Homo sapiens: one gene and its partner. The protein of the gene in region 1 interacts with the protein of each later gene in a pairwise test. Each region holds a gene or a part of one and is shown on either strand. Other genes may lie near its edges.

What was found. The genes of interacting proteins can lie anywhere in the genome.
Region 2: the proteins of PALS1 (region 1) and WFS1 interact in binary tests that used the Homo sapiens proteins (3 or more experiments, as listed by UniProt).

The regions. Positions count from the first base shown.
Region 1 is NC_000014.9:67,328,379-67,335,488, reverse strand, and holds part of PALS1 (protein PALS1), read right to left. Parts: intron 2,710-7,110; coding exon 2,533-2,709; 3' UTR 1-2,532. UniProt on the Homo sapiens protein: Plays a role in tight junction biogenesis and in the establishment of cell polarity in epithelial cells.
Region 2 is NC_000004.12:6,265,663-6,272,959, reverse strand, and holds the start of WFS1 (wolframin), read right to left. Parts: upstream 3,111-7,297; 5' UTR 2,946-3,110; intron 1-2,945. UniProt on the Homo sapiens protein: Participates in the regulation of cellular Ca(2+) homeostasis, at least partly, by modulating the filling state of the endoplasmic reticulum Ca(2+) store.

The DNA of each region.
Region 1 (7,110 bases):
AACAAAGTTATGCACCAACCTAAAACTTCCTTATTTGGATTTTCCAAGTACATAGCATTAGTTATTGATATCATTTCTATATTAAATGGTAAGACCTCCCCCACACTGGGGTCTCCAGTCAGAACCACAGAGGGACAGGAAATGGAATTGGCCAGAGTGGCTGTACAACTAGGTGTACAGCAAGGCTTTTTTCCATATTCTTTTGTGGAGGTCAGCAACAACTCAGTTTTCACTTTAAGGACTATGTTGAATATCAGCACATCCTCATCACTAGGATTTAGAAAAGTTTAGGACATTTCTATCTACCATTGCTGATGAGGAAGGGGAGAATGATTGATAGACTTCACTGACCTTGAAATATTTATCATCTCAGACTTCCTAAAAGTATGGCATGGCATCACCTCTGCCTTGATACAAGATCTGCTTGTTAAAGCCATGTTCCTGAATCTTGACAGCACATGGCCCTAGTGCAGGCCTAATGTCTACAGCAGGCACAAGAGCCACTCACTGACACTACCTACACCCTCACTCTAACTTAACATGAACTGCCAATAGTTTAGCTCTTGGAGTTGAAAACAGTTGTCAGTTACAATAAGCAGGATCACAAAACTCCATTGTCAACCATAGACTACACTTCATTCCTGAGACGTAAACTGGAAAACTGAAAAGATTAAGTAAGTGCTAAGTATATTCCTTAGTTTTTAATGCTAAAAATCGGTGTGACCTGTGAAATTTCCTGGCTCTAAACTGGAGTATTTCAGATCTGAAGAGACAGTAGTGTATGGCATTCCTTCCCTCAACCCAAGAATGTTATTTTCTTCCTAAGGAACATTATCTTGAAAATATTTCCACATAAAACACTCTCCAGCCAACTTAATAGGCCATGCAAATTTGAACAGAAAAAGGCGACATATAAACTGTCTACATTTGTTCAAATAAAATTATGTAGAAGAAAAAAAATCAATCAAATATGTACATGACACAAATTACTCCTTAAACATAATTGCTTATGTTAAATTAAATGATGTCAGTATTATTCCAGTGTTTAGCTCTGGGTATAGGAAATGCTGTAGCTAAAGTCACCATAAAAATAAAATCAAGGCATTCACATTTGAGGTTGTTTGTTACACATCACACTATCCTAAAGGCTTGAAAAGACTGCAAATTAAGTTTCCATGCCAATTATATACGTTGAATTTTAAAGCTACAGCTATAGAGACAGTACGAAAATCCTATTAGCTTAAATGTTTCTTTTATGATTTACCAAGCTGTTGCATTCTCGTCATAAGAGGCAGACCTTGTTAGGTTAAAAACCTATTTCTATATATTTAATACCTTTTTCTCTCCAATATTCTTTTCCTAAAATGTTCAAATGACTTTCAGGTCTTCCCTTCCTTTTGATCTTAAAGTCAACTGTCATAATATTTCCCAAGGACATATATAATTTTATTCTAATGCTAAACAAGTGTTTTCAATGACCATTTGTTGATCTATTAAATATTAATATACAGTACAGCAGCTATATTCATCAACAGAATTCCAGTTTATTACCTATATATACGTAGCACAGTCATAGGATACTGTGCTCATACATAAAAATGCAAAAACTGTCAAATGTGCTATCCTCCCATGTATACAAAAAACTATTAGCATCATGAGGAAGAAACTTTTTAAGTCAATACAGATTATAATGAACACCTGCCATTCATAAAAATGTAACATACATTCTATTATACTATGCTGATGAGGGAAGGGAAGCTAAGTGAGTAAATCAGTTGAGACGACTTAAGAAAAAAATTCAGGAAATCATAATTTAAAAAAGATCAGCATATTTTGTATACCTTTAAGTAGATTAGAGTGTGTTGAGTGTAGAGTCTGATCCACAAAGTCTGAGCAAAAAAACTGGTGCTTCTAATGGAATGTTTTTTGTTTTTTTAAGAATCAAAAGACATATAAATGAATTCAAGCCTAACAAAGTAGCTTCAACCCAAAGTGGCACCATTTTGTTTTTTATTTTTCCTTTTTAGGAAAGTATCTCTGATGACTAAATTAGTTTCCTAAGCAAATACTGCCTTGCCCAGTGCATAGAAGCACAGTCCCTCTGCTCAATATTCCCAATGAAGTCATTTAAGTGTTAATGATTTAACACTTAAGAATAATCACATCAATATTTGTGTGAGACATGGACGCTTGTGTATACAAGTTTTTCACAGAGATACAACTAAGCAGAAAGGGTTTAGGTGAAAACAAAAGGTTTTAACAGGACAAAATGGAATGCTCTGTTGAAAGCTTCCATTTAGAATCCCAAAATGAGGCAAGAACCGCTAAAGCCATGTATAGAGAATAAAGGATGCCATGCACAAACTGCCTAAGGGAACTGTCGTCTCACTAATTCAAGAGATCTAAGAACAGATCTACAGCTTATACTGCTGCCTTCCATCTTATCCTCAATCTTGCTGCAGTGTCGGGCAGTCCTCCTATTGGCAGTTTTTGCCAGATCAAGTCCAACATGCCACAGAATGGATGTTTCTTTCACCTCAGCCAAGTGGATGGTACCCACTGAGGTTCAGTATCAAGTTTGTTAATTAACCTAAGCAATTCCTGATAGGCTTTATCAAGATCGGAATTCACAATTGCCGTATCAAAGTAGTGGCCATTGTTCTGCTCCATCTCTCTTGTCTTCTCAATGATTTCTCTCAACTCTTCAGGCTGCAAACAGAAGATAAAAACTGTGAGATAATTCCTTTCCTAACCAAATAATATAGGATGAGTCAGAGATGGCCAAAGAACAAGGAGCGACCTTCATAGCTTTCCTTCTGTCTCTCCCAACCTCAGGAGCTCCTTTCCAACCCTGTCACGGCCACAATGGTTACCTTTGCTTTGGCATCTTCACGACTCATATTATGAACCATCTGGGACTCAATATATCCTGTTTTATACCACTATTTAGGTTTTCACATATTTTGTCTTATCTCACCAACAAAACTACAAGCTTCAAGAACACACACTGTTTCCCTACAAACATTTGTTTTCAAACATTCTAGACACTATAACCTCTTCCTAATAGTAACATCTGTAATATGGAGTGAACCTTTCTGGTTGGAGCAAGGACCTAAAATGCCATTTACTTTTGGCTCTAGTAAAGAGCCCTTGCCCTATACTATCTGCTGCAGAGAGTTAAAAGTATCCTACCAGAGTTTGGGAAACTATATAGAGTAGCCTACTTTAAAATACTGACTGAAGGAAAGGGCCATTTTACAAAGATAAGCAGGCAGCAAGGCTATGTGCAAAACTTATCCTGAACCCTCTAATTATCAGGCACATGGGTTCAAGAAAGTGAAACTCACCTCAAATCACCCCTGCCAATGAAGACAACTAACTTAAACTCAAGACAAAATGTCTCAGATATAAAAGTCACACATCAATACTATATTGGACCCATAGTACAAAACAATTTATATCATTCAACTGTTTGAACTTCTGTAACAGTAAGAAAACATATTAAAAATATGACAACTCTGGCTTGTCCTGAGGCAGTTTCTTGCATGACTCTCATTCTGGAATGTTGTACATCTGAATATGGCACACAGAATCCTTTGTTCCCAGCAGGGAATCTACTTCACCACTGTAACTGAACACACTGACATTTTTGCTAAAACTTATGTCTACCGTAAGCTCAAGATTATTGGAAGAACATTCTAGGACTCCACAGAGAACTGAAACTTTGTGGTATTGGAGTTGAAATGAAAATGATAAAGCCCGAATCCACCTAGTTTTTATCAAATTTAAGGCATTGTTATTCCATTTTGTGCCAAAATGGCTTATATCACTTATTTAGTACTTCATGTCTGAAGTTCTCTTTCAAATTACAATCCACGACTAAGATGAAACAAAATGTTTTAGCTCAAAATTTTTAGCTGAACTAGGCAAAACTGACAATAAGTTCATACTGCTAGATAGCCACTCTCAAGCCTTCATACTAGCAGAACAGATTCAGAGATTCAGAATGCAACTAGATAACCGGTTGGTTACATTTTGTAACGCCATCATTTTCTTAGCACAATTTTATAGAGTTAAAATTGAAAATCTGTTTTACTTCAGCACTTCTATCATTGAGTAATAAAGCACTATTAGAAATACCAATACCAGCGCAGGGGCTCCCCCGCCTGTAATCTCAGCACTTTGGGAGGCCAAGGTAGGTGGATCACATGGGGCCGGGAGCTTGAGACCAGCCTGGCCAACAGGGCAAAACCCCGTCTCTATTAAAAATACAAAAAATAGCCAGGCGTGATGGTGCACATCTGTAATCCCAGCTACTTGGGAGGCTGAGGCATGAGAATCACTTAAACCCAGGAAGCAGAGGTTGCAGTGAACCAAGATTGTGCCACTGCACTCCAGCCTGGGCGACAGAGTGAGACTCTGTCTCAAAAAAAAGAAAGAAATATCACAGGAGAAAAAAACTTAAGTAGAATAAATACAATCAGATACACCATCCTCTACACCAAAAACTGTGGAATACACATCCTAACAGGTGTGCACAGAACATTCACCAAGAAAGAACAGATGTTGGGCCATAAAATAAGGCTCAACAAATTTGAAAAGACTGACATCTTTCAGGGTCTGACCACCTGGAATTATAAATCAGTTAAAATCTTTTTCACATCTCCAAATAGGTGGAAACTATATAACATACTTCTAAATAACTCATGTGTTAAAGAGAAAAACAAGGAAGCGGGGTGCCGGGGGCTCAGGCCCATAATCCCAGCACTTTGGAAGGCTGAGGCAGGTGGATCACCTGAGGTCGGGAGTTTGGGACCAGCCTGACCAACATGGAGAAACCCCATCTCTACTAAAAATACAAAATTAGCTGGGCGTGGTGGTGCATGCCTATAATCCCAGCTACTCGGGAGGCTGAGGCAAGAGAATTGCTTGAACCCGGGAGGCAGAGGTTGCAGTGAGCAGAGATAGTGCCACTGCACTCCAGCCTGGGCAACAAGAGCGAAACCCCATCTCAAAAAAAAAAAAAAAAAAAATGAAGGGAAATTAGAAAATACTTCTAACAAAATGGTAACAAAAATACAATGCCAAAACTTACGGGATGCAACTAAAGAACTGTTTCGAGGGAAATTTATAATTTCAAATGCCTACATTTGAAAAGAAGAGTTTAAAAATTAAGCATTCATCTTGAGAAACTAAAGCAAGTGCAAATTATAGTCAAAGAAAGCATAAAAAGAAATGAATTAAATAGAAAAGAGACAATAAAGACAAATGCCCTCCAACTTATTTCTTTTGCTAAAGTGTCTGATTATTCCTTTTGATAATAATAATAATAATTATTATTATTATTATTTATTTCCTGGTTCCAGATTGTGTCTTTATTCCTCTTTCTGACAGACAGCAGAGCATTTGTCTGGCATATATTCTCTCTTACCACAATATAGATGATTTTCTGTGACTTTAACAATACATACAAGAAAAAAATCACATCTTTATGCCAATACCATTCTTTCACAATACTAGAAGAACAGATTCAGAGTACAATTACATAACTGGTTGGTTACATTTTGCATCCAGTGAGTAACACCATCATCTTCTTAGTTTCTATATCTATTTATTTATTTATTTATTTATTTATTTATTTATTTATTTATTTTTGAGACCAAGTCTTGCTGTGTTGCCCAGGCTGGAGTGCAGTAGCACGAACTCGGCCTCTTCAGTAGCCAGTACCACAGGCGTGCACCACCATGCCTGGCTAATGTTTTTTGTATTTTTAGTAGAGACAGGATTTCACTATGTTGCCCAGGCTGGTCTCGAACTCCTGGCCTCAAGTGATGCGTCCGCCGTATCTCAAAATAATAAGAGCTATTTATGACAAACCCACAGCCAATATCATACTGAATGGACAAAAACTGGAAGCATTCCCTTTGAAAACTGGCGCAAGACAGGGATGCCCTCTCTCACCACTCCTATTCAACACAGTGTTGGAAGTTCTGGCCAGGGCAATCAGGCAGGAGAAAGAAATAAAGGGTATTCAATTAGGAAAAGAGGAAGTCGAATTATCCCTGTTTGCAGATGACATGATTGTACATGTAGAAAACTCCATCGTCTCAGCCCAAAATCTCCTTAAGCTGATAAGCAACTTCAGCAAAGTCTCAGGATACAAAATCAATGTGCAGAAATCACAAGCATTCCTATACATCAATAACAGACAAAGAGAGAGCCAAATCATGAGTGAACTCCCATTCACAATTGCTACAAAGAGAATAAAATACCTAGGAATCCAACTTACAAGGGATGTGAAGGACCTCTTCAAGGAGAACTACAAACCACTGCTCAACCAAGTAAAAGAGGACCAAACAAATGGAAGAACATTCCATGCTCATGGATGGGAAGAATCAATATTGTGAAAATGGCCATACTGCCCAAGGTAATTTATAGATTCAATGCCATCCCCATCAAGCTACCAATGACTTTCTTCACAGAATTGGAAAAAACTACTTTAAAGTTCATATGGAACCAAAAAAGAGCCTGCATTGCCAAGACAACCCTAAGCCAAAAGAATAAAGCTGAAGGCATCACCCTATCCAACTTCAAACTATACTACAAGGCTACAGTAACCAAAACAGCATGCTACTGGTACCAAAACAGAGATACAGACCAATGGAACAGAACAGAGCCCTCAGAAATAATACCACACATCTACAACCATCTGATCTTTGACAAACCTGACAAAAAGAAGAAATGGGGAAAGGATGCCCTATTTAATAAATGGTGCTGGGAAAACTGGCTAGCCATATGTAGAAAGCTGAAACTGGATCCCTTCCTTACACCTTATACAAAAGTTAATTCAAGATGGATTAAAGACTTAAATGTTAGACCTAAAACCAGAAAAACCCTAGAAGAAAACCTAGGCAATACCATTCAGGACATAGGCATGGGCAAGGACTTCATGACTAAAACACCAAAAGCAATGGCAACAAAACTCAAAATTGACAAATGGGATCTAATTAAAGAGCTTCTGCACAGCAAAAGAAACTACCATCAGAGTGAATAGGCAACCTACAGAATGGGAGAAAATTTTTACCATCTACCCATCTGACAAAGGGCTAA
Region 2 (7,297 bases), on another chromosome or scaffold:
ACTGTCCAGAAAGGGGCTGGCTATAAAGCCTACACCCCTCCATATGGTGCAACGCTGTACAGCTGGTAAACGTGACCTCGTACATGAACGTTTTGAGACAAGGAAAAGGTGGGCCTAACACTGTTAAGGCAGGATTTAAAGCAGCAGAAGATATTAGCCGGAGTCTGTTTAGGATGAAAACAAAATTTATCTGCCAAAAAACGGAAGAAAACGCCCCCTAAAAAAGATACTTGTTGTCTCTGGGGATAAAGCTTATGCGCGGTTTCATTTTATTCTTCTTTTAAACATATTTCCCTAGTTTTCTATAATGAATGTGTGATGTTTTTGAAATTAAAGCAAATGTTATTTTAAAACCCATCTGTGAGCAAGCTCTAAGGGAGCAGGCCCAGGAGGTCCTGGCCCTGGGATGTCTGCTCTGGCCTGGCCTGACCCAGCCCCCTGGCACAGGGCTGCTCCTCAAGACAAGGGCACAAAGCCCTTGATGGATCCCAGGTACCTATTTTTGCTCAGAGTATTAAGGGACAAACCAAGGAACATTCCAGCTCTATCCAATGTGGCACATTCACAGGAACAGAGGGGTTTGAATTGGGACTGCCCCAAGCAGCATTCATGACGGCCATAGTGGCCAAGCCCCCACCACACACCTGGCACCTGCTCCAGGCCTGGCCTGGATGGGCAGCAGGTGTGGACTGAGGGTAGGTCCATCTTGTGCCAAGCACTGTGCTGGGCCCCCCTGCCCTAGAGAAGTCTTGTCCAGGGCCAGCATTGGAGCAGCTTCATCTAGATGGGAAGGGTTAACACCTAAACAGACACCCACAAAGACGGCACAGAAGGGGGCCCTCACTCCACTGTGGGAAGAGGCAGGCCAGAAATCCTGCAGGAGGACTTGACTGAGCCTTCTGGACAAGCAGGCAGGAGCCAGGCAAGCTGGGAGGTGGCTGGGCATTCCAGCAGGGGTTGTGCCCAGAAGAGGAGGCAGCAGAGGGACAGTGAGCCAGGCTTGTGGCCAGGAACACGCAGGTGGCTGGGAGGTGACTGCTGGAGAGAGGACACAGGAGGGAGAGGCTGAGTGAGCAGCGAGGCGGGTCCCTGAGGGCCCGAAAGAATGCCGGCTCCTGGCTCGGGAGGCGGACCTGACCCGATAGCCCAGAGGGAAGTGGCAGCTGAAGAACCAGCAGGGCTGCGTGCAGCCAGGCCCGGATCGGGACCAGGGAGGAGCCTGGGGGTCGTCCAGGGAGAGGCGAGGGTCCTGAACCAGGGCAGGCATCCGAGTGAGGCTCAGGAGCCAGGAGAGACCCAACTGGGAGTGAGGAATGAAGGGCACAGGGGGTGGTCTGGTTTGTGGCTGGGGCTGGCTGGCTGTGGTGGTACCACTTCCGGAAGTAGGGAAGTGGGAGGGGAGGGGAGCCGTGTAGGCATAAAGCTCCCGACCTATTATGATTCTTATTGCCACCGTCAAGGATGGGTGTTTCGGGTCTGTCTGGCAGTGCAGACATCTCTGGGGGTTGAGACTGAGCTGAGGTCCCCTCTGTGACCAGCCCCAGAAGCCTGTCCAGCACTGGTCCGGGATGGGCAGGGGAGGCCTAAGTCAGAGACGCCCTCCATGCTCTTCCATCCTGGGAAAGAAGGTGAGATGGGGTCTCCCAGCCAACTTTTCCTGTGTCTGCGAAGGGAGGACAAACCAGCAGGTAGGGAAAAGAGGCTGAAATGTGGAGAAGCCTCCCTCCAAATCCCTGGTTGGATACAACGGAGACCCCATGGGAATCACAGACCCTTGGACACAGAAGTAAACAGGTGGCGACAGTGACAAAGGTGGCCTCTGGGCTTCCCGTGGGCTCCCTCTCCTGCTGCAGAGAACAGGCAGCCAGCACATGGGGTACCCAGGGCACAGCTCCTTGAGTGATGGATGCTGGCATAAGAGAAAGCCCTTTACAAACTGCAAAGCCCTGGGCCAAATGCCAGGGGTCACTGTCCAAGGTGAGGAGAGACGGGGCTGCTTCTGGAGAGATAGGGCAGAGGCCTCACACCAGGCTCTGCCCCATCAGCTTCGTGGTCCTGGGCTGGCACCAAACCCTGCTGAGCCTCAGCTTCCTGGGGTGTCAAACGGGGACTATAACTTCTCCGCCTAAGGCTACTGAGAGGGTTAAATCTGGGTGGTGGGGGGTTGCACAAATGCGACTTCCTTGGAATTCATAACATCATCTGCTAAGTGGGTGAGAGGCCAGGGCGCCATCACATCCAAAAGGGCTGGGTAGGATTCTCCAGAAAGTTTTCGTTGATCAAACAAAAAGCTAATGATCCAGAGGGTGGAGTTCATACGAGGCAGGGTCCAGGTGCTGCCACTGAAACCCCTCAACTCTCTACTGAGGGGCCCCGAGAGAGAGAGGAACTGCCACAGCGCTCCTAAGTGGGCTGTGGGGATTCAGAATGACCCCTAAGCTGCCCCTCGGGCGGGCCGGGTCCCCCTGGGGGACTGAACCCCCCTTCCCCCCCACAACACCTCCCGGGGGCCCAGGCGCGTTCCAACGGCCGGGCGGGCACCGAGGGCGGCCGTGGGTCCCGGGACCGCGGGGGAGGGGCATGACGGGGCAACTCGGGGGGGATGGCGCGGGGCGCGGGGAGGGGGCCTGCCCGCCGGCCGCTCCGCCTCTCGGGCCTGCTGTCCCGCCCGCGGCGGGGCTCCAGGCGACAGCGCGCGGGGGACCGGGGCGCGCCCCCCGGGTGACCCGTTCGGGCCCGGAACAGGGGTCGCCTTGCGCGTTGCAGAGCGGGCGGGACCCCCGGCCCTCCAACTTCGGGGACCTTGTCGGGACTTTGGGGCCAGCCACCCATCAGCTCGGAAGGGGAAACTGAGGCCCGAAGAGGACAGTGCCTCAGGGCTCTTGCCCGCCTCCTGCGCGCTGCCCACAGCCACCGCGCCACTGCCCCAGCGCCGAAGTACTCACCGGCCCGTGAGTGGGCCGCACGCGGCGCTGCGACGCCCTGGGGCCTCTGGGCCGGCAGAAAAGTTGTTCGGGAGCAGCTGAACGCGGCGCAAACGGGAGATCTGCGGCCGCGGGGGAGCAATCTGCACTCGCTGCTGAAGAGCCGGCTAGCGCGGCCTTCTGCACGAGGGGGCGGGGCAGGGGCGGGGCCTTCGGCCTCCCTCCACTCCAGACGCGGCCCCCCGGATGCGGCGCCAGCTCGGCCTGCTGAGTGGCCGGTGTAGCCGCCAATCACTCCACATCTCCGCCAATCACGGTGCGCCTCGCCTAGCTGCGGCCCGGCACTCCCCCTGCGTGGTTGGGCCCGAGGGGCCAGAAGGCGGGTCCGGCTCGCCCACAGCGAAAGTTTCCGAGCGGACTCGGGCCCCGGCCCCGCCCCCGCCCCGCCCGCGGAACGTCCAGTTGCTTAGCGAGGCCGCTCGCCTTCTCCTGTAACAGGTGGTTTGGACCCGTGGAAAAGGCTCCGGCCACCTTTCATCCACCACTCCGGCCTCAGCGTCCCCAACTGCAGATTCATTATATTTGCTGTTGCAATATTAACACACGTCTTGAGCGCCTATTCCGGCGCTGCAAGAGAGTCTAAGGGCTCCCCTAATAACAGCAGCAGAGATGGAAAAATGGGGCCTGTTTGAAACGAGTGTCTGCAGCCAAGTACTGCTTTCAGTGCCCAGAATCAAATGCAGTGTAGCAAGCTTTTCACACGGTGACTGTGGGATTCCTTTAAAGTGTGTGTTAGCCCAGGGAGTGGGCAAGGCTCAGGCAGTTTGGAGACTCTGGGAGTTTGGTTCCTGTCTGGGAGGCGTGGTTTGGAGATGAGGGCGAGGGTCTATCCTTGAGAGGCCCTGGGGAACGTGAGACCCTGCCTGCTCTGTCTCTGGTCCCCACAACCAACCTGAGCTACCTGTCCTAGTTATCACAGCAGAAACTGGGGCTCGGAGTGACTGTCAGAGATAATGCTTACCAACATGTTGGGAGCAAATATTCCAGATGGCTTTGGAGATGAGTTCTGAACACACTACTTCGGAGGACTTTTGTCAAAGCGGCGTAGTTCATGTCAGTCACCTCATTTGATTCTCCAGCTGCCCCCACTGCCCACCCCCGATCCCCAATGTTCACGTGTGACCCTGTGAGGCTCACAGAGGAAGGAAGAACACCTGCCGTCAGCCTCGCCTGCTCTGTCCAGGTTGGCTTAGGGGCTTTCACAGCTTTCAAGGGCCCCCCTAGTGACCCAAGGAGGGAGGTGGCACTGAGCCCATTTTTTATTGATGTGAAAATTGAGGCTCAGACATAGTTATTTGCCCAAAGTCTTGAAGATGTCTTTCCACCTTATCACACACTAACTGTAGAAAATTTGGAGAATTACTAAAAGTAGAAAGGAGAAAAAAAATCACTCAAAGATGATCACTGTTCACATTGTGAGATTTATGCACATTTAAGAAAATAATAAATATTAATGTGAACACACAATCACAGAGAGGCTGAAGCACTTCCCAAACCCTTTGCAGGGGCTCATTAAGCAGAGAGAAGAGGACAGATTGAAAAGTTCCTCCTGTGGAGGTCTAAGGGAAGAGAGGAAGTGCAACAAAAAATCTACAAGATGGCTTAAGGAGCCTCTATCAGAACACAGCAACACTGAACATACTCCACGGAGCTAAGAGACTGAAAAAGCAACAGGCAAATTCAGAAAGAGAAGAGTGGAGGTGAGGACAAATGAGCAAACTGGAAGATAATGTGGAGTAAATGCTTCATGATGTAGAGGAAAAGCACATGAAAATCATCAGGACAAAAAGCAGAGACTGGAAAGACAGTTCCAGGAGGTGTATTGCACAAAGGACAGGTACTCCAGGAAGAGCTGGAGGGGAAACAGAGGTGAGCAAAGTGCCAGGAGAACGTGTCCCTGGAAATCCCAGATGCCAAGGATAAAGAGACGGTCTTGCAGAGTTCCAGAAAGAACAGGTCACATCTAAGGGGAGAAAAGTTGAAGTGGTTCCTAGGGGACTTTGGAGCAATGTCCAGGGACTCTGATGATAGGATCAAGGATCCTTACCATGGCTACTACAGGATTCATCTATGTGGACAAAAGAGAGAAAATATCCACTGTGGCAAGACAGAGAAAGGACCTCAGTGATGTCCCCTTTCAGAGGAAGATATTCAGAGTTCCCCCGTCACCGAGACAGTTCAATCACAGTAGAGATTTCAAGATAGAGCAAACGCTCAGAACAGGAAGTGGTGTTAAGCAATGACCCTTGCAAAATATACAGTATGGATAATCCACATGTGCCTGTGATTTTGTACTAGCAGTGCCACATAAGGATTCTTAAAACATAAGCTACATGCTTCAAGAGAAAGTTGTATTAGCCTGGAACTAAAAAAAAAAATAGAATCTTATCACAGAGAAGTCAGAATATTTTAAGATCACATTTGGTTGAGGGGAGAAGGAGGAAGTAAAAGGATCTGATTTGGTGAGTGGGGAAGGAAAGCCTTATTGGTGGTTGGGAGGGGTGCTTCATTACCATTTACTTTTAATACATTAGCAGGGAAAGATTGGTTTAATTATGACTCTCAGCTGGGGAAGGAAAGCCTTATTGGTGGTGGGGAGGGGGCTTCATTACCATTTACTTTTAATACATTATCAGGGAAAGATTGGTTGAATTATGACTCTCAGGAATTGGAAAGTAGCAACTCACGGGAAAGAAGCAGAGTAGAACTCCTGAATTACTAGGTAGAAGTTGGGGGAGGGGTGGAGGGAGAGTAAGGAAGCAAAATTAAGGGGGAAAGTAAATAATAGCAAGAACAATAAGCTTAATAATAGTAAACATAAGATGAGATAAAATAAATAAAGCCATGGCTACCCGCCTTCGTAACACGGTGAATGGGCTGAATTTCCCATCCAAAGTCTGTAAGATTGGGGCAAAAACTAAAGTCCAGTTAAGCGCTATTTACAAGAAACACACCAAAAATATTGAGAAGTAGAAGATCACAGCAGACATTTGAAAAATGGCAAATTACTATTGATAAGGAAGAACGCATGATGGAAAGCATTCACGGGAAGAGTGGTATTATGTAAGGGTGCCAGGCACAATCCACAAAGATTTCATTGTCATGAATCTGAATGAGCCAGAAAATCTAGTAGCCACACACTTAAAGCAGTAACTGCTAGAAATACTAGAACTTATTAAAACACAACTCTGGTGGGAGAAAGAGCCAGCTGTTCAATGCTATCTTTTCTAGGACACCTGTCCTCATTCCCCCAAGAGCTGAGCTCTGCATGTTGCTGCTGAGTATTGAATGAATGAATGGATGGATGGATGGATGAATCACCTATGCAAGGACTTCATATAAGCTCTTTCTTGCCCATAGGACAGTGTCCAAACTCTTTAACCTGACATCCAAATATACCCCCCACAATTCAGTCCTTTGATGTCTGCCCATGATTTTCAGACTCTGCATTCAAGTTCTTGGCCCACTTCCTTCCCTACACCTATTTAAAACCTACTTCCATTTACTCAACAAACATTTAGTGACTTTTGGCCAGGCGTGGTGGCTCACACCTGTAATCCTAGCCCTTTGGGAGGCCGAGGTGGGTGGATCACTTGAGGTCAGCAGTTCGAGACCAGCCTGGCCAACATGGAGAAACCCCATCTCTACTAAAAATACAAAAAAATTAGCCGGGCGTCATGGCACATGCCTGTAATCCCAGCTACACAGGAGGCTGAGGCAGGAGAATCGCTTGATCCCAGGAACTGGAGGTTGCAGTGAGCAGAGATCATGCCACTGCACTCCAGCCTGGGCGACAGAGTAAAACTCTGTCTCAAAAATAATAAGAATAATAATAAAATAAATAAAAATTAAAAAATATAAACATTTAGTGACATCCTGCCTGTTCCAGGCATTGGACTACATGCCAAGTATTCAAAGAAAATGAGGACAGAGGCTTGGTGAGTTGTCATTTGAAAGACAGCAGAGTGTGGCGGTTTACAGGCTATTGGTGTACAAGGCCCCCAAAGAGATCACTTCCTGGAGCCTGTGAATGGTACCTTATTTAGAAAAGGGTTTTTGCAGATGTGATTAAGGATTTTGAGAAGGGGCCATTAGCCTGGCTTATCTCCTTGCAGGAGAGAGGCAGACAGAGATTTGACCACACACGGAGAAGTTGATGTGGACATAGAGCAGAGAGAGATTCCAAGACGCTGGCATTGAAGATAGGAATTATGTGGCCACAAGTCAAGGAATGCAGGCAGTCCCTGGAATCTGGAAGAGCAGGGAACAGATTCTCCTTGATTTTTGCCCAGTGACACTGATTTCAGACTTCC